Linked DNA regions of Homo sapiens: regions 1, 2, 4 and 5 are each reported to be linked to region 3. Evidence: microRNA targets listed by miRTarBase, many of them from high-throughput screens and not tested one by one. Region 3 holds a microRNA gene; each other region holds the end of a gene's coding sequence.

Region 1 (4,456 bases), not on the chromosome of region 3:
TTATTTTATTGCTTTGTAATTTACAAGATTCTTGACATTAGTGGTAGTGTTCACATTTAAGCTGTTATAACAGCCTTCTAATGGTAGACTTTTCTAAGTTTTATTAATTGAAAATGCCCACAAAATGATTATTTTACTGATTCACTTGTAATTCCCCCTTCCTTTGACAGGATATCTATAGAGAAATGGGGTTTGGTCACTATGAAGAAGAAGAAAGCTGTTGGGAGAAACAAAAGAGTGAAAAGAGAGACCGAACTCAGAACCGAAGTCGTAGCCGATCTCGAGAGAGGGATGGCCATTATAGTAATAGTCATAAATCAAAATACCAAACAGATCTTTATGAAAGAGAAAGGAGTAAAAAGAGAGACCGAAGCAGAAGTCCAAAGAAGTCCAAAGATAAAGAAAAATCTAAGTATAGATGAAAGATGAAGAGGCAGAATTGAGAGGCTAACATATTTACTCTTGTCTAACTTAAGAGTGCCAGGAAAGCAGATGCTTAGATTTTGTGTCAAAGCTTGTTATTTTTTTCATACTAGGATTATGGTCTTTAGATTAATACTGATTATATAGAGCACGGAAAGATAAAGAATTGAACATTTTCTTTGTATACTTTTTTACACTAATTTTATTGTTATACATAAATGGTAGTCTTCATTTTTGAAGTCTTACATTTTCACTCTTTTTTTAATGAAGTATTTCATACTACAAAAATACATAAACGTATATATAAAGGGATAATAAATGTAAATATCTGTGTACTCATCAGCCAGCTTAAGATACAGATGTTGTCGACATTTTAGAAGTTCCCTAAGGCCCTCTCCCTCTCAAATAATTATTTGGAATTTTGTGTTTGTCATTTGTCTATTATAGTTTTACAACATACGTATGTATCTGTAAGTGAAATGTTAATTTTGTATGTTTCTGAATTTTATATAAATGGCAAAATGTTTACTTCTGTGACTTTCTTTCATTTTTATTGCTATATAGTATTATATAAATATACTACAACTTATTCATTCTTGATGGACATTTGAGTTTTGTTTATTTGTTTTTGCTGTTGAAACAATGCTGCTGTGAACATTGTATCTAGCAGTTATATTGCTTGATATATTGATAAAATAATGCCAAATTTGTGTTCTGAAGTGACTGTACTAGTTTATACCTCTCTTGGCACTGTGAGTTACCTTTGTTTCATAGCATCTCCAACACTTAAGTTCAGACTTAAAAATTTGCCAACCTAGTGGATGTTAAGTGGTATCTACCTGTGATTTCCAGCAAGATTACTGTTATCTCTGCTCTTCCATGTGTAAGATGTCATTTTTTTCCTGGCTGCTTTTAAGGTTTTCTGTCACTGGTTGTAAGAAGTTTGATTATGATGTGCTTGCTGTAGTTTTTTTTTCACGTTTCTGCTGCTGCAGCTATTTTACCTGTGGGTTTATGGTTTTCATAGAATTTGGAAATTGGGGGGCATTTTTTCTTCTGTTATGGTTTTCTCTCTGCTCCTCTCATGCTTCTCCTGGGGCTCTGATGACTTGGATGTACGTTAGGCCCCTCAGAATTTTCTCCCAGTGTGCTGATTCTGTGCAGCTTTTTAAAAAGCCTTTTTCTCTCTGTGTTTCATGTTGGGTACTTTCCAGTGCTGTGTCCTCATTGTTTATTAATCTTTCTGTCTAAAGTATCTAATTTCCTTTTAATCGTATCCAGGTATTTTTCACCTCCGACATATTTTTAGTCTTTAGAATTTCTGTCTGGGTCTTTATCTCCCATGTGTCTCCTTCACATGCTCATGCCTTCCTCTATTTTTTTTTTTTTCAACATCTGGAGTGTATTGATAATAGCTCTTTCAGTGTGCTTGCCCATTCTGTCATCTGCATCATTTCTGGTCTGTTTCTATTGATTGATTCCCACCCTACCCCAACCCCCACCCTGCCCATATTGGATTGTAACTTCCTTCATTACATGCCTGGTAATTTCTGTTTTTAATATTGGGTGCTGGAGTTCTTTTAAGTATCTTGAACTCTGTTTGGGGACATAAAGTTACTTGGAAACAATCCGATCATTTTATAGCTTGCTTTTAAGCTTAATAAGACAGGACTGGGACAGCCTTTAGTTTAGGGCTAATTTGACCCACTACGAAGGTAATACCGTTCTGAATAATCTTCCTGGTTACACGGTTTCTGCATTCTGTCTGTTGGGAACATGAAATATTCTGAACCCTATTGAGCTCCCAGTTGTATCTCCTGTTCCTTACCTCACATGCATACACTGCTTGGTGTTTAGCTGAAGACTTAAGGGAAACCCAATATTCTGCCCTGCAAATCTTACCTTGGCTCCCCTAAATTCTCTACCCAGGGAGGTTCCCTTCCCTAGCCTTAGTGCCACAGCTTAGAAACCCCATGTAGAAGCTTGCGCAATTATAGGGCTTTCTTTGTTTTCCATCTCTCAGGAGTCACTGTCCTGCACTGGCTTTTGTCTAACATCTGAAAAACTTCCTTGTATACATTTTATATAGGTTTTAATTTAAGGTGGAGAAGGTAAATCGTGCCTCTGCTACTCCATTTTGACTAGAGTGGAAGTTAACTTTGTATTTCCTAAATGTTAATGAGGCTGAGCATCTTTTCCCATGTTTATTATTCATTCCTTATTGCTCTCTGAAAAGCTTGTTTCATGTCTTTTGCCCATTTATATAGTAGTAGATTGTTGTCTTTTTATACTTAATAGATTGTGGATACTAAGAATAAGTTAAGGAGTGCTGTCTCTCTCTCCTTCCCTCTGTCTGTTCTCTTGGAAGAAAAGAAAAACATTTAAATTAATCTGTTCCTTAAAAGCTGGATAGAGCTTGCCTATAAAATTGTCTGAACTTTGCATTTTTTTGTGAGAAAATTTCTTAACTATTGATTAGGTTTCAAAAATTATAGAATTATTAGCCTTTCTATTTCTTTAATGTTAGTCATTTTTATTACATTTTTCTGGGAATTTGTTTTCATTGACGTTTTTATTTTTTGATAGCATTGCGCATAGTTTAGCTAGATTTTTCTATCCTGCTTTGTTGATGAATGTCCTTATGTTTTAGTGTGTCTCATAAACAGCATATAGCTAGATGATGATGATGATGATTATTATTACTATTTTGAGACGGAGTCTCACTCTGTCACCCAGGCTGGAGTGCAGTGGCGCAATCTCAGCTTACTGCAACCTCCACCTCCTGGGTTCAAGCGATTCTACTGCCTCAGCCTCCTGAGTAGCTGGGACTACAGGTGCTTGCCACCAGGCCTGGCTAATTTTTTTTTCTTTTTTTTAGTAACAGGGTTTTCACCATATTGGCCAGGCTGGTCTGGAACTCCTGACCTTCTGATCTGCCCACCTCAGCCTCCCAAAGTGCTGGGGTTACAGGTATGAGCCACTGCACCCGGCCAATTATTTTTAAATCTAATCTGAACTTTAACTGGTTAGTTGAGTGCATTTTTATGTGTACTGATGTATTTGCATTTATTCCTTACCACCTTATTTTGTGCTTTTTATGTTTTTTTCTTCCACTCTTTTTTTTTCTTTTGGAATCAAAAATGTTTTTTAATTCCACCCTCACCCCTCTGCCCCCTCTTCTTTGTTTTGGGGGAATTTCCTTGGAATATTACATCCGTACTTAAAAAGTATAATGTTATATCTTTATCTTCCTCTCTAATTGAGAGTCTTGGAACTCTCCAAGTCACCCCTCTTGCAACTTTCGTGTTAAAATCATTCAGTATTTTAGTTATAGCTTGTGATTTTTCACCTTAAAATTAGACCTTGAGCTGGACTCAGTGGTGCACACCTGTAGTTCTGGCTCCTGAATGGCTGAGGCCGGAGGATCCCTTGAGGCCAGGAGTTAGAGGCTGCAGTGCACTGCGATTGTGCCTGTGACTAGCCTCTGTACTCCAGCCTGGGCAACATAGTGAGACACCATCTGTTAGAAAAAAAATTAGACCTTGTGATTATTACTGTTTTTGTACAGATAATTGTTGGTTTAGATTTACTTTATATGTTAGAAGTGTTTGTTTATTCATTATTATTCTCACATCTCAGACCTTTCACCTAGGATAATTTTCCTTCTTTCTGAAGCACATCTTTTGATGTTCCTCTAGTGACATCTGTTGATGGCAAACTCTTAGTTTACATTTATCAAAAGTATTTTCAATTCATTCTATAAAGTTGATTTTATATGTACATAATTCTAAGTTGAGGTGTGTCTTTTTTTCCCCCAGTACTTTGAAGAATTAGTCTACTATCTTTTTACTTTTGTTACTACTGGGGAGAAATCTTTTGTCATTCCAAATGTCATTCTTTTGGATATAATGTGACTTTTCTTTCTGATTGCTTTTTTGCTGTGGTTAAACTTTCAATTTTGAAATCAGTTGTAGATTGGCATGCAATCATAAGAAATAATACAGAGAGAACCTGTGTACCCTTTGCCTAGTTT
Region 2 (4,000 bases), not on the chromosome of region 3:
ATATTTTTAGGTTGTAAAATATGAATGGTTAATGTGGAATTAGAAGTTGTACCAAATATTTAGTTGTTTATTTGTGTGAAATAGATATGGAAAAGTGATATATATGAAATAAGTTTTTCAGTTCCTGTAGTAGTAGTAAATAATATTAGATGATTATTAGGATGAATTTGATTGGAATCATTTGAAAGTTATGAATATGACAGTATACCTGAATTACACATGAATGCATAAAAATGATTATGTGATTTTTTTTTTATATTAGGTTTTGGATACTGAAAAGAAGTCATGTAAATAAAATAGACATAAAAAGGTAAAATTAGAATTTACCACATTTCTTTTTTTCTTGTCTGAACATCTCCAGAAGTTGGCATGCAACCTCAATAGGGTTCTCAAATAGAAGTATTTTTCTTCTTCCTCCGCCACTAAAAAAGAATTATAAAATATTTGATATATTTACATACCTATATGGATCTACATCAGCCTGCTTCCTTGTGTGGGCTTGTCTATCAGGTATATTTTTATTCTCCTCTTGTGTTTCTTTGTAGATTTACCAAATACGTATAATTCACAAAACAATATATTTAGTTTTGCTTATGTTTGGATTTTATCAGACTGTATCATACTCTCTGTATTAATTGATGACGTGGCTATTTTCACCCAACATTATTCATTCGTGTAGATGCATGCAGCTGTCATTCATTTTTACTCCTATATAACATTTCACTTTATGTTTATATTAGTTATTTGGTCATTCTACTATTAATGAATATTTAGGTTATTTTCAATTTTTAAAAATACTAACTCTTGTAAATATCCATATACATACTTCTTGGCATGAATGTGCACAAGTTATCCACAGTATGTGCCAAGGAGTAGAATCATATCATCATAAAATTTAATATAATATCAGTTTTTTTCTCAAGTAGTTATACCAGTTTATACTCCTACAAACTGTGTAGAAGAACTGTCATTCTACACTTGCCAGTACTTTATATTGTCAATACTTTAATTTCAACCAATTTAGTGGATGTAAAAATAGAATCTCGTAACTTAATTTGCATGAAGTGCAGCATCTTTTCTTATGCTTACTGGTTTTTGAGTTTCATCTTTGGTGAAATGCCTGTTAATGTCTTTGCCCATGTTTTTATTGGTCTGATTGTCCTTTATACATTGATTTCTATATATTCCTTATATAATTCTTTGTGAGGTATGTGTGGCAGGCCTTCTCCCATTTTGTGGACGGTCTTTTCGTTTTTTGTTTTTTTTTTTTGCGGCATCTCAGTGAGTAGAATTACTTATTTTGGGAATCTTTTTGTTTATGCCTACTTTTGTGTTTTGTGTCTCATTTAAGAAATTATTCCCTGTCATGAGGCTGTAAAGTAATTTAACTTTTTTTTTAAGTTTTGGAGCTTTGCTGTATACGTTTATATTTTAATCCATTGGGAATTGTATTAACAGTTGGTACAGTAATGGTGCTTAGCAAAAACAACTACAAGGTTCTCAGTAGTGAATAACACAAAGTGCTTATTTTTTATGCATATATAGATTGGCTGGGAGTTGGCTGATCTCATCTGGCCTTGGTTGGGTTGGCACTGTTTCATATGGCAGATCTGCTGGGTCAGTTCTGCCCATACTTATCTAACTCTCCTGGGACCAGTGGGCTAGCTAGGGCATGTTCTTCTCATGGTGTTGGCAGAAACTCAAGAGGGCAAAGCCCTGTTTACAGCACATTTACTTATAACCCATTGGCTAAAGTAAGTCATATGGCCAAGCCCAAAGTCAAGGAGAAGGAAACTGTACTCCACCTTTTGTACTTTACATGTGGGAGGAACTGGTAGAATGAATGAAAAAAGAGTATAACTGTAACTCTAGGGAGAAAAGAAAAAATAATACTAATAGACTTTTTTAAAATGGTATCAGATAGAGGCCTCATATCATTCTTATTTTTGTTGTTGTTGTTCCCTTTTTCCCACATGGATAACCAATCTCCCAAGCATTATTTAATTAAAAAGACTGCTCTTTCCCCCACTAACCTGTAATACCCCTTTTGGTATATGTCAAGTTTCCATCAAGTGAAGATCTGAAGGTCTGTTTCTGGGATGTCAGTTCTTCTCCATTTGTCTTTTTCTCCAGTATATACTATCTTAATTACCGTAGCAACACTTGTTACTGTCAGTCATTTTGATTATAGCTTTTCCAGTAGGAGTGATGCTGTATCTCACTGTAGTTGTAATTTTCATTTCTCAAATGACTATGAACATCTTTTCATGTGCTTATTGGCCATTAGTCAGTTTAGATCTCTGCCCATTTTAAAATTAGATTGTTTTCTTATTGAGTTTTAGGAGTTCTTTACGTATGTTGGATACAGATCCTTTATTAGATACATGATTTGCAAATATCCCAATCTGTGGCTTGTCTTATTTTATTAATGGTATCTTTTGAAGCATCAAAGTTTTCATTTTGATGTCGTACAGTTTATCAGTTTTCTCTTCTATGGATCATGCTTTCCGTGTTGTATCTAAGAATTTATTGCCTAACACAAAGTCACAAGATGTGCTCTTATGTTTTCTTCTAAAAATTTTCTAGTTTTAGCTCTTGTGTTTATGTCTATGATTCATTTTGAGTTAATTTTTAGGAATTGTGTGAGTTAAGGGCAAAACTTTTTTTTACATGTAGATGTCCAATTGTCCCAGCACTTTTTTTTTTTTTTTTGAGACAGAGTCTCACTCTGTTGCCAGACTGGAGTGCAGTGGTGCAGTCTCGGCTCACTGCAACCTCTGCCTCCCAGGTTCAAGTGATTCTCATGCCTCAGCATCCCGAGTAGCTGGAACTGTAGGTGTGTACCACCATGCCTCCTAATTTTTGTTATTTTTAGTAGAGACAGGCTTTCACTATGTTGGCCAGGTTGGTCTTGAACTCCTGACCTCAGGTGATCTGCCCACCTTGGCCTCCCAAATTCTGGGATTACAAAGGTGAGCCACTGTGCCTGGCCACCAGCACCATTTTAAAAAAAGACTGCCCCTTCCCCCTGACTTGCCTTCATGCCTTTGTCAAAAATCAGCTGACTATAAATGTATGGATTTATTTCTGTACTTAGTTGTGTTCCATTGACCTCTATATGTGTGTCCTTATACACTATCACAGTGTCTTGATTACTATAGCTTTGTTCTAAGTTTTGAAATAAGGAAGCGTAAGCTGTCTAGCTTTGTTCTACTTTTCAAAGATTGTTTTGGCTACTCTGGATCTTTTGCTTTTCCATATAAGTTTTAAGATCAGCTTGTACATTCTGCAAAAAACCCATGCTGAGATTTTGATAGGGATTGCATTGCATCTGTGGAAAATTGCACATAGAATTCTGATCTGTGAGCATGGAATGTCTCTCCATTTATTTAGATCTTCAGTTTCTCTCAGTTTTGTAATTTTCACTGTACAAGTGTACAGTGTACACTTTTTTGTTAATTTATTCGTACATATTCTGTTTGATGCTATTGAATGGAATTGTAATTTAAACTTTATTTTTAGTTGTTCATTGGTAGTATGTAGAAATAGAATTTATTTCTGTTATTGATCTTGTTTCCCAAGACTTCGAATTCATTTATTAGCTCTAGTAGGTTTTATTTTGTGTGTGCATGTATTCCTTAGGAATTTGTATATGTAGGATTATGTTATGTCTTCCTTTGTTTTTTGAGACAAAGTCTTGCTCTTCTCCCCCAGGCTGGAGTGCAAATGGCGCGATCTCGGTTCACTGCAACCGCGGCCTTGCGGGTTCAGGTGATTCTCCTGCCTCAGCCTCCCGAGTACCTGGGATTGCAGGCATCTGCCACCACGCCCGGCTAATTTTTGTGTTTTTAGTAGAGATGGGGTTTCACCATGTTGGCCAGGCTGGTCTCAAACTCCTGACCTCAGGCGATCCGCCTGCCTCGGCCTCCCAAAGTGCTGGGATTACAGGCGTGAGCCACCGCGCCCAGCTGCCTCTTCCTTTCTAACCTTTCTAATGCTT
Region 3 (4,456 bases):
ATATAAAAAGAAAGCTACAGATACATATATGTATCCAATAAGATGGCATTTTTGTAACTTAAAACAACAATAAATGGTATAAACCGATAAATATATGTATAGACAATTTCCTGGAATGCTATGCAAAAACGAATGCATTATTGTGATGCCTTTGGAAAGATATGAAAAAGAATCAGACTGAGAGACTGGCCCACAAGGGGTCTCTCTCTGTAAGATAGCGAATAGAATGGTGGTTACCATAGGCTTGCAAGGGTAGTGGAAAGAAAGGACAGAGAGGTGTTGGTTAATGGGTGCAAAAATATAGTTAGATAGGAGGAATAAGATCTAGTGTTCAGTAACACAGTACAGCAACTGTGGTTAACAATAATGTATTGCATATTTCAAAATAACTAGAAAAGTAGATTTGGAATGTTCTCAACACAAAAAAAATGATAAATGTTTAAGGTGATGGATATGCCAGTTACCCAGATTTGATCATTACACATCGTGTGCCTGTATCAAAATATCACATGTACCCCATTAATATGCGCAACATTATGTATCCATAAACATTTAAAATAAAAAAGAGAAAGATGAACGCAAATCTGACAACGTGGTAACAATTGTGAGTTTAGGCATCCAGAAAATGACTCTAGAATTTACTTTAATTTTCTATTTGTTTTCAGTAAATGCAAGGGTAAGGTCTCAGAAGAGATAAGAAGAACCGAGAGGTGTGTAAGCAGGCTGTTTATAAATCTTTTTGTTTGTTTGTTTGTTTGAGACGGAATCTCACTCTGTCGCCCAGGCTGGAGTGCAGTGGCATGACCTTGGCTCACTGCAACCTCTGCCTTCCAGTTTCAAGCGATTCTCCTGCCTCAGCCTCTCCAGTAGCTGGGATTACAGATGTCTGCCACCACGCCTGGCTAATTTTTGTATTTTTAGTAGAGACGGGATTTCGCCATGTTTGAAAGGCTGGTCTCAAACTCCTGACCTCGTGATCCACCTGCCTCGGCCTCCCAAAGTGCTGGGATTACAGGCGTGAGCCACTGCGCCCAGCCTGGCCTTTTTATTTCAAACGAAAGTCATGGATGATGAAGACATAAAATGGATGAATTTGAAGCAGGAAGAGCTGTAGTGAAGTTAGAGGAGGTGCCAGGGCCTGGAAAAGTCTCAAACAATGAGGCCGGATGACCTCCGAGAAAGCCACAGGCCTGGGTAGGCTTGCATGGGGGACTGGGAAGAGACCATGAACAGGTTAGTCCAGGGAGTTCTCATCAAGCCTTTACTCAGTAGTGGGTTCTTCATAGTTAGCATTAATGTTTAATAGATACATTTCCCCTTGGGTGAGAATTTTAAAAATAAAATCTAGTGTAAAGCAGCTGTTATGAAGACTCTTTAGTGACCAGACAATAAAAGCCTCTCCTAGGTCTAGAGAAGGCAGAAAATTAAAAAGTGAACAGAAAGTAAAAAGGTGGCCGGACGCGGTGGCTCACGCCTGTAATCCCAGCACTTTGGGAGGCCGAGGCGGGTGGATCATGAGGTCAGGAGATCAAGACCATCCTGGCTAACATGGGGAAACCCCGTCTCTACTAAAAATACAAAAAATTAGCCAGGCGTGGTGGCGGGCACCTGTAGTCCCAGCTACTCGGGAGGCTGAGGCAAGAGAATGGTGTGAACCCGGGAGGCAGAGCTTGCAGTGAGCCAAGATTGCACCACTGTACTCCAGCCTGGGTGACAGAGCCAGACTCCGTCTCGGAAAAAAAAAAAAAAAAAAGAAAGTAAAAAAGGTATAGGGCAGTATATATGGATTTTTACTATTTCTACTACTGCCTAATATTTGGTTAATTTGAAAGCTTTTGAAGAATCTCTGGAAACATTGCAATAGAAGATTGTCAGTTTAAAGCTTCTGCTACATTACTATGTTAACTTGGAAAAACAATCACTTTTCAAGTAATTCAGATCATAGGCTACTTGTGGCTACTGTGTACTGTAATGATAGTTTTATTCTCTGTAGTGTTGTTATGCCTAAATTTCTAAAGAGAAAAGAGAAAGAAGAAAGAAAGAAAGAGAAAAGAAAGAAAGAAATAGAAAGAAAGAGAAACAGAGAAAGAGAGAGAGGGAGAAAGGGAGGGAAGGAGGCAGAGAGAGAGGGAGGGAGGGAAAGAAAAGAAAGAAAAAGAAAAGGAAAGAGAGGCAGAGAAAGAAAAGAAAGAAAAAGAAAAAGAAAGAGGGAGGGAGGGAAGGAAGGAAGGAGAGAGAGAGAAAAGATTTCAATATCACGTTTTCCCTGACATATCAAGATAGTGAATTTTTCTTTCTATACTAATACTTTGCCTGTGTATGTAGAGTACGTAGAGTATTTTATTAGTTCCAGAATCCACTTTTGAACTGTTAAGGCTACTCTAGTTTTGTTCTGCTTTTTCTGCCTTTCAGATGGACACATTTATTAGCATTTGGGAGTTGTTCATTAGCATTTGTACAAAGTGCACAAATAACTCCTAATAAAAAGTGTTAACCCAATTAGGAATGGGTGGAGGGACTGTTAATTGGAACTGACTTACTCCCAAGTTATTTTAGTGTTTATTCCCAGACATAGGGAGCTGGTCTAGAAAGGCAAGAACTTTTGGATATTAGTAAGTTTTTTGTTTTCTTTTTTTTGAGCAGAATCAACCTGTAGTAAGAAAAGAAAAATATTTCTCATTTTAAAGGTGTTAAAAGCTGCCATTATAAGGAATCCCATGTGTTGGGGGTGGTGCATACTTTTTGGTGAATTTAATAGGTGTCCATTCATAAAGCACAGCTTATTTTACTTCAGTGAATCAGAGTGATGGTTTAAGTATTGCACAAGGGCACTTCATGTGATGCATGCCACACTTTGGATTCTGCATGGGAGAGATAATCATAAAACAAAGTAACTAAGTGCTCTGAAACAGTGTGCTTTGGAATGAAGGAAGTTAATTTTCAGGTAGTTAAGAGGCTCTCTTTTCGATAACCATTGTGAATGCCATTTCCCTTAGTTAAACCAAATAAAATGTCAAATTCAAAAGAAGAAGAATAGACACAGATAAGAAGCCTCTTCCCCCCATTAATCTAAACATGGATTACCAATATTCTTTCTCTTTCTTGGGCTAGGAAGTGAAATATACTTCAAATGTATGAAGATCAGTAAGGCATAGAATTCCCCAGTTGAACACTATTCAGTGTGAATATTGTTAGGAAAAGTAAATAAGGCTTTGTTAGGCTTTTATATCTTAGTATAAATAAGCTTAATAGTTTCTTTTCTGAGACAAGTTAAAGTTGAATTTACTTTTATATTTGCAAGGTATTTGCAACTTGACTCTGAATAAGAAAACCATAATTAAAGCTTCAATTTTGCTTCTATCTTACTGAGAAATTAGGGGAAAGTTAAAGCTCTCTGAGAGGTAATTTTTCCATGTATGGGTTGAACAGGGGATGTTTAAAGACCCATATAACTCTAATACTTCAAGTTAAAAGCTTCAGAAAAATGTTAACAATTCCTCAAAGTTTAAGTATAAATTAATAATTGCAGCTAAGAATCTGTCCTTTTATCCAGAAAAAAAAATTGAAACATAAAACAAAATAAAATTTATGAGTTGATTTAGAGCATAACCATAGAATAGTGCTTGCTACAAGATAGGTTCATCAGAAAATATCTGAAAAACTTCAATTTAAAGTCTTACTAAAAAGTTTGTGTTTATTGTTTCCTAAGTGAGCATTGTCTAAAGTAGCCTCTTGTTAAGGAAGATGCCTGATATGGACACCCAACATAATGCTGCACTCCTCAGTTCTGATCCTGAGCTCTTAAGGTACTAGTAAAAGGTTTAACTGACAGATTGCTGAGGCTACTGAATACAGTTAGTATTTGGAGAAATCCTCCGTTTCTGGTAACAAATAATATGCTTGTGTTAAAAAGAAGGACAATCTATTTTGAGTAGTAACCACTGATGCTCCTGATAACTTAAGGGAAGTAAAGAAAGAATTTTGTGTAATTCCATTTGGTACAATAAGGACTCACTGTACTCAAATAATAAGAGGCAAGATACTCATAAATGTGATGACATATAACATTGAAGGTCAAACCACAGTGAATTCCAGGAAAAAAAAAAACTGAGTGGCTTCCTTCTAAGTGTTCCAGAGTGACTAAAGTACAAGTAAGTATATGAAGATGTGATAAATTAAACAATAACCTAGGGAAGCATTCTTATAATAAAAAGTGAGCAAGGAGAAGGGAGTGTCGAGACAGTGGACACACCCAGGTCTAAGAGCATATATAACTTGGAGTCCAGACTATGACATTCAAACTCAGAGAATCTTTCCACTATAACTCAGCTGAACTCACATCTCCCGTCAACATGTCCTACAACTGCTGCTCTGGAAACTTCTCCTCCCGCTCCTGTGGTGACTACCTGCGCTACCCAGCATCCTCACGTGGCTTTTCCTACCCCAGCAATCTGGT
Region 4 (4,456 bases), not on the chromosome of region 3:
CGGAACTGGATGTGCTGAGCAGGAGACAGAAGCATTCCCCAAGCTCTTGCCCCCACCCTGGGTCACCCCTCCCTGGGGCCCGCCTTCCACCCAGACCTGCCCCGTCCTTGCAGCTGGTCAGCTTCCTCCTGTCCCCAGCCAGGCATCCCCTCCTCCTCTGCTTCCCCCACCCGGGATCCGCCCCGCCACATCCTGACAAACTCCCCCAGCCTGACTTAGTTCTTTCAGTCTCTGCCTTCTCCCACCCTCAAGCAGCCAGGCCTTGTTCCTGTCCAAAATCTTCCCTTGGGCCTTGAACCACAATCCACATCACGGCAACCCTACCCTTCACTGCAGAGGACCCCAAAATTACCAGGTTCTGACAAGGTTGCCAACTTTTTATCAAAAAAGGAAAAGACAAGGTCCAGTCACAAAAGGACATTTTAATACCAAAACTGTGGGAAGGCCACTGTTCTAGACTAAAAGGGAGTCTTTAAATAGCCAGCAGGAAGCTTGAGGGTGAGCAGCTGTCCTTCCTGTCCCTGAGCAGGCCCCCTGTGTGCACCCTCAGCCCCGAGCCCCACTCCAGACCTGCTCCCAGCCCTTCCCACCCTCTAGGTTCTGTGGTCCCTGTCCTTCGGGAGGCCTGTGACCACAGCAGTCCTCACCCTCGCCAACTAAGTTCTGCCCAGCAAGCCCTCTTGCCTGCGGGGGCTGGCACTCTGGCCAGGGGTAGAGCTGTCTGGACCTTCCTGCCTCTTCACTGACTGCCCCTGGCCTGGAGTGCGTGGGGCGGGGAGGGCCATGGCCTAGCCCTGGACAGAGGCTCAGCCAACTCAGAGCGGCCCTGACACTGGGGGGGCCACAAGAGGCATCCGGACAGATGGAGCTGGCAGGTCTCCACGCCCAGCCCCCACCCATCCACCCCAGGCCACATTCCACCCCAGGCCTCTTCTGCACAGGTGGGGACAGGCCCTGAGGAAGAGGGGCTGGGACACTACCCCCCACCTTAGCCTTAGCTTCTGCCCAGGGCAATGCTGGCCACCCAGCCCGGTTCCCCCCTCAAGTTCCCCCTTCACACGCCACTATGTGGCCTCACCAGAGCCCTCCAGGGAAATCTGCTTGTGCATTTCTGGATACACAGTGGCCAGGGTCCCTGGGGGCTCCTCAGAGACCAGCCTGAAGCCCCTCCCCTGCAGCCATGTGGGTCTGCAGCCCTCTGTGCTGTGCGGCAGCCCTCAGAAAGCCAAGTGAGGCGAGACTGTGCTGTGGGGAAGCACATGCTGCCACGGTCCTTGGGGTGCGCTCCCCAAAGTGGGGTCACAGTTGTGAGAGAGGTGGGTTGTCTTCCCAAGCTGCCCCGACACCTTGAAGTGGTGGTCCTCAGGGGGCTGGTCACCAGCATAAGGCTTTTGCAGAGGGCCCTGGTGGAGGGCAGCTGATGGCAGGGCCTGTACTGGCCCCCCAGGCCCCATCTTATGGAGGTCAGCATTCAAGCTGCCCACACAAGAGGTGCCAGCATCTCTGCAGACCCTCTAGAGACCAAGCCCTCAGTGGGGAGGCTGGTCCCCCTGTGCTACAGTCAGGAGGCCCAAGCTGCATTTGGGGCCAGGACCTTTCTCACCCTCGGGTCCCCGGCTTGTCCCTGCCACAGAACAGGTTTGCCACCTCGGCCTCTATGTGTTCTGTTTCATGTGGTCACATCCTTGGACCCTGCACCAGACATCTGGGGCTTAACAGCTCCCCTTGGTCACCCTCCCGGCTGCCTCCGCGTCTTGTCTGTAGAATGGGAACAGGGACAGGCTGTCCTGGGCTGCAGTTGGGCTGGACAAGTTGACATGTACCAAGTTCTGAGAACTACCTGGCGCCCGGACACCTGACCCCGCTGTCCTTGTGGCTCAGTCACATCCTGCACTGAAGTGGCTGGCAGTGCTCGCTCTCCACCACCTGGCTGGAGGTCTGAGAGCACCAATGAGAACACAAACAGTACGTTGCGCTGAATGAAGGCTACATTCCTCGGACTGAATGGGGGCCTCAGAAGAAAAAGAAAAGTCCCGGCCGGGCGCGGTGGCTCATGCCTGTAATCCTAGCACGTTGGGAGGCCGAGGCGGGCGGATTACGAGGTCAGGAGATCGAGACCATCCTGGCTAACATGGTGAAACCCTGTCTCTACTACAAATACAAAAAATTAACCAAGCGCAGTGGTGGGTGCCTGTAGTCCCAGCTACTCGGGAGGCTGAGGCAGGAGAATGGCGTGAACCCGGGAGGCAGAGCTTGCAGTGAGCCGAGATCATGCCACTGCACTCCAGCCTGGGCAACAGAGCGAGACTCCATTTCAAAAAGAAAAAAAAAGAAAAAGTCCCTCCCCCAGCCCTGTGTCCCCTGGCCAGCACCCGCCCGGCCTCACAGGGTACAAAGCCCAGTCTCCATGAGTGGCCCTCCCAGCACCCTGTCGGGCATCTGCATGGCTGGCTCGCTCAGATGAGGAGTCTGAGGGTCTGAGTGGTCAGGGGACCTGCTCCCGGGCACACAGTGCGTGATGCTGAGCAGGGCTTGGCTGTCCGGAGCCCTGACAGTACCGTCACTGTGTGCTGTGCAGGGTCAACACCGTACCTCACCGGCCTCAGTGCCTGCAGGTGTCACGGGGGGAGCATACAACCCAGAGGTGGCTCTTAGGGACGTTCACCCCTTACCAAGGAAAGGGAGACATGCAGGCTCCAGCCAGAGGCAGGGTCAGGCCGAAGTCCAGAGCCCCTTGGGCTGCATGTGGGGGATGGACGGACACACTTGGACAACAGGAGCCCTGTCCACCTCCCAGAAGGGACGCACGGAGCTGGTGCCTGGTGGGGGCTCCAGGACTGGGAGCCAGGAAGGTGCTGTGGCTCTCCGAGAGCCAGGCTGAGCCAGCTCTCCTAGCAGAGGTGCTGGGCTGCACACAGCCCCCTGCCCAACCCCTACCTCCCAACAAACCACAGCCCCAAGCAGGTGGGTGTCCAGAGGAGCACCAGGGGTGGTGAGCAGAGCTCTTCACACTGCAAAGTGGTCTCTCCCTTTCTCAAGTTGATGACTATATGCAAAATAGCCTCCCATCCCCAGACAAGACGGGGGCTGTGTCAGGAGAGGGTCCCTCCTGTCCTGGGCAGCCTGTTGGGCTGAGGGAAGCATCACACACAGCGCAGGGGGGTCGGGGGCCAACAGATGGGCACCGGGAGGGGCAGACGGTAGACGCACCCACATCAGCAAGGGCTCCCAGCCTGTCCCCGCCCCCGTCCCAGCCTAAGGTCTGCAGAGGCCAGGTGGGACCCAGGAGGAGGCAAGGCTCTGCCTGCGAGGAACCCCTATGGTCAAGGCCATGCTGTGGTTCCAAATGTCGCCTTTACTGCTGAGACAATGGTGGTGCAGGAAGGGGAGCCTGCAGTCTGGGCGGGGGGCCAAGGAAGGGGAGCGTGTGCTTGGCCCAGTGCCGCCACCACTGGGGAGTGGGAGGCTCAGGCAGACCTAGGGCCCTGGGACCGTGGCCCTTGGCTTTGTTCTAGGGAGGGCACAAGACAGCCTGCAGGTCTTTGGGCAGGGAGCCGATGACCGTCTCGATGTACAGCTGTGCCCGCTGCAGCGTAGCCTCCTTCACAGGGAGCTGGTGGCCCTGAGCCCGCACCTGGAGGGGCAGCCATGGTCAGGGCAGGCGCAGCTCCGTGCCAGGCTGGTGGCGCTGGGACAAGGCTGGGAGGCATCTTACCAGCTTCTCACGAAGTTTCAGGACCAGGTCCACGACCTCCACCTCGGACTTGTCTTTCATCCAGGTCTCGATGTTCTGCAGGGCAAGACGGGGTCTACTGTCAGCAAGGCCCCTCACTGCCCTGGGCCTGTGCCCACCCCCACCATGTTCTGGCCCTCCCCAACCCCCAGCCTCTCTCACCGCCTCACAGATAGCCTCCAGGTGCAGGGCCTCCAGCTTCAGGGCCATCTCCTTGTGCCGCTGCCGGTACCAGCCATCAAAATGGGGGGACTTGAAAAACCGCCTGTGGGGATTAACAGGCGGGGGGCCATGGGGCTGACCCTGGGGATTGACAGGCGGGGGCCATGGGGCTGACCCTGGGGATTGACAGGCGGGGGGCCATGGGGCTGACCCTGGGGATTGACAGGCGGGGGGCCATGGGGCTGACCCTGGGGATTGACAGGCGGGGGGCCATGGGGCTGACCCTGGGGATTGACAGGCGGGGGGCCATGGGGCTGACCCTGGGGATTGACAGGCGGGGGGCCATGGGGCTGACCCTGGGGATTGACAGGCGGGGGGCCATGGGGATGACCCTGGGGATTGACAGGCGGGGGGCCATGGGGCTGACCCTGTGGACCAAGGAGGGCTCAAGCTGCCTGCACCTGCAGTCCACGCACCTGTAGAGACCCAGCCAGTCGCCCTTGAGGATGCAGGTGAGCTGGGGCCCAGCATGCTCCAGGCTACGCAGGAAGTCATCCTGGC
Region 5 (4,456 bases), not on the chromosome of region 3:
TCCGTCTCAAAAAAAAAAAAAAAAGAAAAAAGACTGAAAGAGGTGTTTTGCCAAAATGTGACACAAAGAAGGGCAAGAATCTAAGTCTTTGTCATTTAGTGTTTTTTTAAAAAATAATAATAGTGATGGACTGAAACTGAGCCAACCATACCTTTTATTCAGTTGAAAACAAAAAAGGACACATGCATGACATGGCTATTTCTGAATCAGGTGAAATAACTAACAGTCTGAAGGTGAAGAGGGATCAGATTGTCAAGCTAAAACTCACTAACACCTATTAAAACTCAACTGCTTATAACAAGTAAGCTTAGTACTGACTGCATAAATAGTTTTATTTAAACAAAGTTTAAAAAAAGTGATGCTATGGGACACATAACTTCCAGAGCATTAAACTTTAAAATAACTTGATACATAGTATAAGAAACAGAATCCTATGGAAGAACACAAAACTGTACCTCTACCTAAAATACTGCTATAGCAAGAATGTGGTTTTCTGTATTTTTGAACTGTGATAGAGACAGAGAAAATATCTGTAAATAAAAAGAAGACCAATGCTAAAAATGCAAATAAGTTGTTATTTCTGGGAAAAAGTTTAAAACTTAAAGTTGGGTGTCATTAATGCTGCTGAATGAAAATGATTTTAAATGGCAAATTTCATACATTTTACCATAATAAAAAAAGTAAAAAAAAAATGGGTAGAAAAATGGTGTTTGACAAAACATCCTAGAGAAAGGTATGGAAAGAAAAGGATTACCAAGTCCACGACTATGACATAAGCCCCTTTTGGAGATTTGGGAAAATCATTTAGAGCAGAAATCTGTTTGGAAAATTAAAATTAATGGATTCAACTCCTGACTATGAATTGCAAGGAGTATACTACATAGCAGTGGCCAATGACACTGGCTTTCAGTGTTTCAAAGTATATCAAAGCAGTTTTAATTTTCTTTTTTTTTTTAAAGCAGGGTCTTGCTTTGTGGCTTAGGCTGGAATGCAGTGGCATGATCATAGTTCACTGCAGCCTCGAACTTCTGGGCTCAAGCGATCCTCCTGCCTCAGCCTCCTGAGTAGCTAGGACTACAGGCATATGCCACCACACCCAGCTTTTTTTTTTTTTTTTTTTTGTGGTAGGGACAGAGTGTTGCTATGTTGCCCAGGCTGGTCTTAAACTCCTGGCTCCCACCTCAGCCTCTCAAAGTATTGGGGATTACTGGCATGAGACATTGTACCTGGTCCAGTTCTAATTTTGGAGTTAAAAAACACCCATATTGAGTCAAATGACTTCAGAGCCTGCCCACCTTCATGACTATTAAGATCACAAAGGGGGCTTTTGCTAGCTGCTCAAGAAATTAGTAAAGTGTAAATAGTTTGCTTTTAACTGTGCTGGAGGAAAAAGTACAAGATGTGCTCAGCAGATAAAGCTTTCAGTCTGCAGGTCAAGCAATCAGGCTCCACGGAACTAGGAGCAAAGCAATGCTCCTATAGTTATATGATAGCTTTTATATGAAGTTATTTATTAGAAATTTCCAAGGCACTTTAACAATACAAATTTTATTAAAAAAATAACATCAAAACTGTTCAGCAAATCTGTATTCAATGTAACCAAAATAAACAAACAAGAAATTAAAAAAAATATACATCTATATATATATGAGCAAGAAACAAGTGCATTTTTTGGTCCCAATATTTTTTGAATATATTATCTTTATCCAGAGGAATTACATTAATGGCTAAGAAGGTATTATGTATTAGATGTATAGAAATGTAACTTTAAAACTTGTTTTAAGTTCTGTAAGAAGAGTTTTGCCAATTCTTTATGTCTTTGAAATCAGAATCCCTAAGCTAATGTTAATGATAGGCCCAAGACAGAGCATGTAATAATGTCTAATGGTCTGGACAAGTATGAAATTAAGAAGCTACCAATAAGTAGCTACACGAAATCTGTAGACAATTCTAAGAAATGTCTTGGAGTTTGTAATAAGAACAAAACAAACACAAAGAGAAGAGTTCAAAAGTAGACATAAAATGGACATCAGCAAATTTCATGAATCTGGGACAAAGAAGTGATGGAAAAATAAAATAGAGTAAAATAAATTTAAGAACAATATAAAACCTAGCTACCAAAATAAAATTAAAAAAAAAGTTTAAAAATGTGAGTATCGGTCGGGTGCAGTGGCTCACACCTGTAATCCCAGCACTTTGGGAGGACGAGGCGGACTGATCACGACGTCAGGAGATCGAGACCATCCTGGCTAACATGGTGAAACCCTGTCTCTACTAAAAATACAAAAAATTAAAAATTAGCCGGGCGTGGTGGCAGGCGCCTGTCATCCCAGGTACTTGGGAGACTGAGGCAGGAGAATGGCGTGAACCCAGGAGGCGGAGCTTGCAGTGAGCCAAGATCGCGCCACTGCACTCCAGCCTGGGTGACAGAGCAAGACTCTGTCTTAAAAAAAGAAAAAAAATAAAGTGAATATCAGTATTGCTGAAAATTCCTAGAATATTGGATAAAACTTTAAATGAAAACATGAATAACTGACTTTGGGAACTGTAATTGTAGAAATTTTGTTTTTCCAAAAACAAGAAAGTAACCTTGGTTCCCAATACAACCAGAATTTTGATATTCCTTGGACTGCATGCCTGCTAGAGGAAGATTAAAGAACAGCAGCCAAAATGGCTAAACGTCAGCCTGGATGTTGAAGCACTGATCTAAAAACAATATAAAACCAAGCTACCAAAATAAAACAAAATAAAATGTAAAAAATGTTTAAAAATGAGAATATTAGTATTGCTGAAAATTCCTAGAATACTGGATAAAACTTTAAATAACATGAACAACTGTGTCTTTGGGAACTGTAATTGTAGAAATTTTCTTTATCCAAGAACAAGAAAGTAACCTTGGTTCCCATACAATCAGAATTTTGATATTCCTTGGACTGCATGCCTGCTAGAGGAAAATTAAAGAGCAGCAGCCAAAATGGTTAAACGTCAACCTGGATGTTGAAGCACTGATCTCATGGACTTTTCTTGGTTAGAATCGACCCATAAGCTTAAGATCAAAAGCCAAAGCTCCCAATGGGAAGTTGTGCTCTATTTGGTGGGCCTTGAGGTCATCTCTGGCCAAATCAGCATCAGCCTTATGGGAGGTCAGTCAGGTAGGAAGGGACTCTCCCCAAGATCTGATTTCTGAAGGCCACAAACTAGAGGACGTCTCACAGTCAAATAATTCACATTTCTTGGAAAGAAAGAACAGGTATCAGTTGTGTCCATCAAAAGGGGACACTGTCCAGGAGTACCCTGGATATTTTTTGAAACTTATGTGTTGCTTCTTCATTTGAAAAATATGAAAAATAGAACAGTAATGAACAAGGAATGAAGAAAAAATGGTTATCTGACCTAAACATGTAAGACTTATAAGAAATTAAGAAAGCAGACAAAACAGACAGAAAAAGATGAACAGTCATATTATCTGGAATGTAATATTCTGAAGGCAAGTCAAGTATAGCAGAGAAAAACAAAAGGCATTTTTGGAGAGAGCCAACTGGAGAAAAAAATATGTTAAGATATGTTAACCTGACGCAAAGATAAGGTGGAATAACAATGTAGTGGCATCTGAAAGCTGAAAAGAGCTGAATAATGAGAGCTAGTGTCATAAACTTGGCTGTTTAACTGCCCTTTGTGTGAGAAAATACTTCAGAACTTTGAACTTAGGAACTTCCAACTTGTCTTGCACCAGGTTGCATGAACTCCATGGAGCAGGAATCTATTTCAATGAGCAGCTTTAAGAAAAAAAAAAAAAAACTTTAATATTTTTCATTTATATTAATATTAATGATTCATTAAAAAATACAACAGTGCTAAAGTCCATCAAAGCAAAATGCACTGAAGGAAAATTAAACTTACCCAGTAGTGGGTTCAGAAGTTGAGGTACTTTTGGAAACTGAAATCAAAAGAGTTTTACATTTACAATAGCATATATGAAGAGTGAGACTATCAATTTAATACATGGGTCCATATGGTGTCCGATCAAAAGTACTGAAATAAATATCAGAAAATCAAAGAAACACAATTATATATACGTACCATTCTCTATTATAACTTGGCAAGTATGAGTTTTACGTTGACTTAAGTGTTTAGCCATACGATCTAAGCCGGAAGAATCAGCTAGGAAATCACATTTAAGGCACACTAGAGTAATGCCCCTATGAAAAAAAAGAAGACAGTAAGAAATATTCTTATCATTTATGAAAATCCATATGAGCTCAATAATTACTTTTCCATGTACTAACTTGATTTGCATTTTAGTCTCCACAACCGTCATTTTCCAATTTTGTTATATAAACTTGATATATTTAAAATAGTTCTCTAGAAAATGGCATCGCTGGCCAGGCACGGTGGCTCATGCCTGTAATCCCAGCACTTTGGGAGGCAGAGGTGGATGGATCACCTGGGGTCAGGA

The links. The annotated mature microRNA hsa-miR-4327 reads GGCUUGCAUGGGGGACUGG and lies in region 3 at 1,198-1,216, shown strand. An mRNA with a match to its seed (bases 2 to 7 or 8) in the 3' UTR can be bound and repressed. Matches are read on the target gene's strand: a 7mer-m8 pairs with bases 2 to 8, a 7mer-A1 pairs with bases 2 to 7 and ends in A, and an 8mer does both.
Region 1: miRTarBase lists PPIL4 as a target of hsa-miR-4327. The part of its 3' UTR that is shown has no 7-base or 8-base seed match.
Region 2: the mRNA of ZC3H8 is a reported target of hsa-miR-4327. The part of its 3' UTR that is shown has no 7-base or 8-base seed match.
Region 4: the mRNA of DENND6B is a reported target of hsa-miR-4327. Seed matches in the 3' UTR shown: 7mer-m8 at 2,252-2,258.
Region 5: the mRNA of ZNF280C is a reported target of hsa-miR-4327. Seed matches in the 3' UTR shown: 7mer-m8 at 2,382-2,388.

The regions. Positions count from the first base shown.
Region 1 is chr6:149,501,419-149,505,874 of GRCh38, reverse strand. PPIL4 (peptidylprolyl isomerase like 4) reads left to right here. Exons shown (of 13, transcript NM_139126.4): 13 at 171-1,380. The coding sequence ends at 422. Among named protein-coding and RNA genes, the nearest start is that of ZC3H12D, 19 kb to the right of the region's middle.
Region 2 is chr2:112,227,213-112,231,212 of GRCh38, reverse strand. ZC3H8 (zinc finger CCCH-type containing 8) reads left to right here. Exons shown (of 9, transcript NM_032494.3): 8 at 263-310. The coding sequence ends at 295. It also overlaps a transcript of FBLN7 not described here. Among named protein-coding and RNA genes, the nearest start is that of ZC3H8, 26 kb to the left of the region's middle.
Region 3 is chr21:30,372,110-30,376,565 of GRCh38, reverse strand. MIR4327 (microRNA 4327) reads left to right here and starts at 1,188; the gene lies at 1,188-1,272. KRTAP13-2 (keratin associated protein 13-2) reads left to right here and starts at 4,295. Exons shown (of 1, transcript NM_181621.4): 1 at 4,295-4,456. The coding sequence starts at 4,353.
Region 4 is chr22:50,308,628-50,313,083 of GRCh38, forward strand. DENND6B (DENN domain containing 6B) reads right to left here. Exons shown (of 20, transcript NM_001001794.4): 17 at 4,372-4,456; 18 at 3,896-3,998; 19 at 3,716-3,790; 20 at 403-3,634. The coding sequence ends at 3,512. Among named protein-coding and RNA genes, the nearest start is that of PLXNB2, 3.2 kb to the left of the region's middle. RefSeq lists a silencer at 41-90.
Region 5 is chrX:130,201,217-130,205,672 of GRCh38, forward strand. ZNF280C (zinc finger protein 280C) reads right to left here. Exons shown (of 19, transcript NM_017666.5): 17 at 4,081-4,199; 18 at 3,901-3,937; 19 at 1,491-3,776. The coding sequence ends at 3,761. Among named protein-coding and RNA genes, the nearest start is that of RAB33A, 31 kb to the left of the region's middle.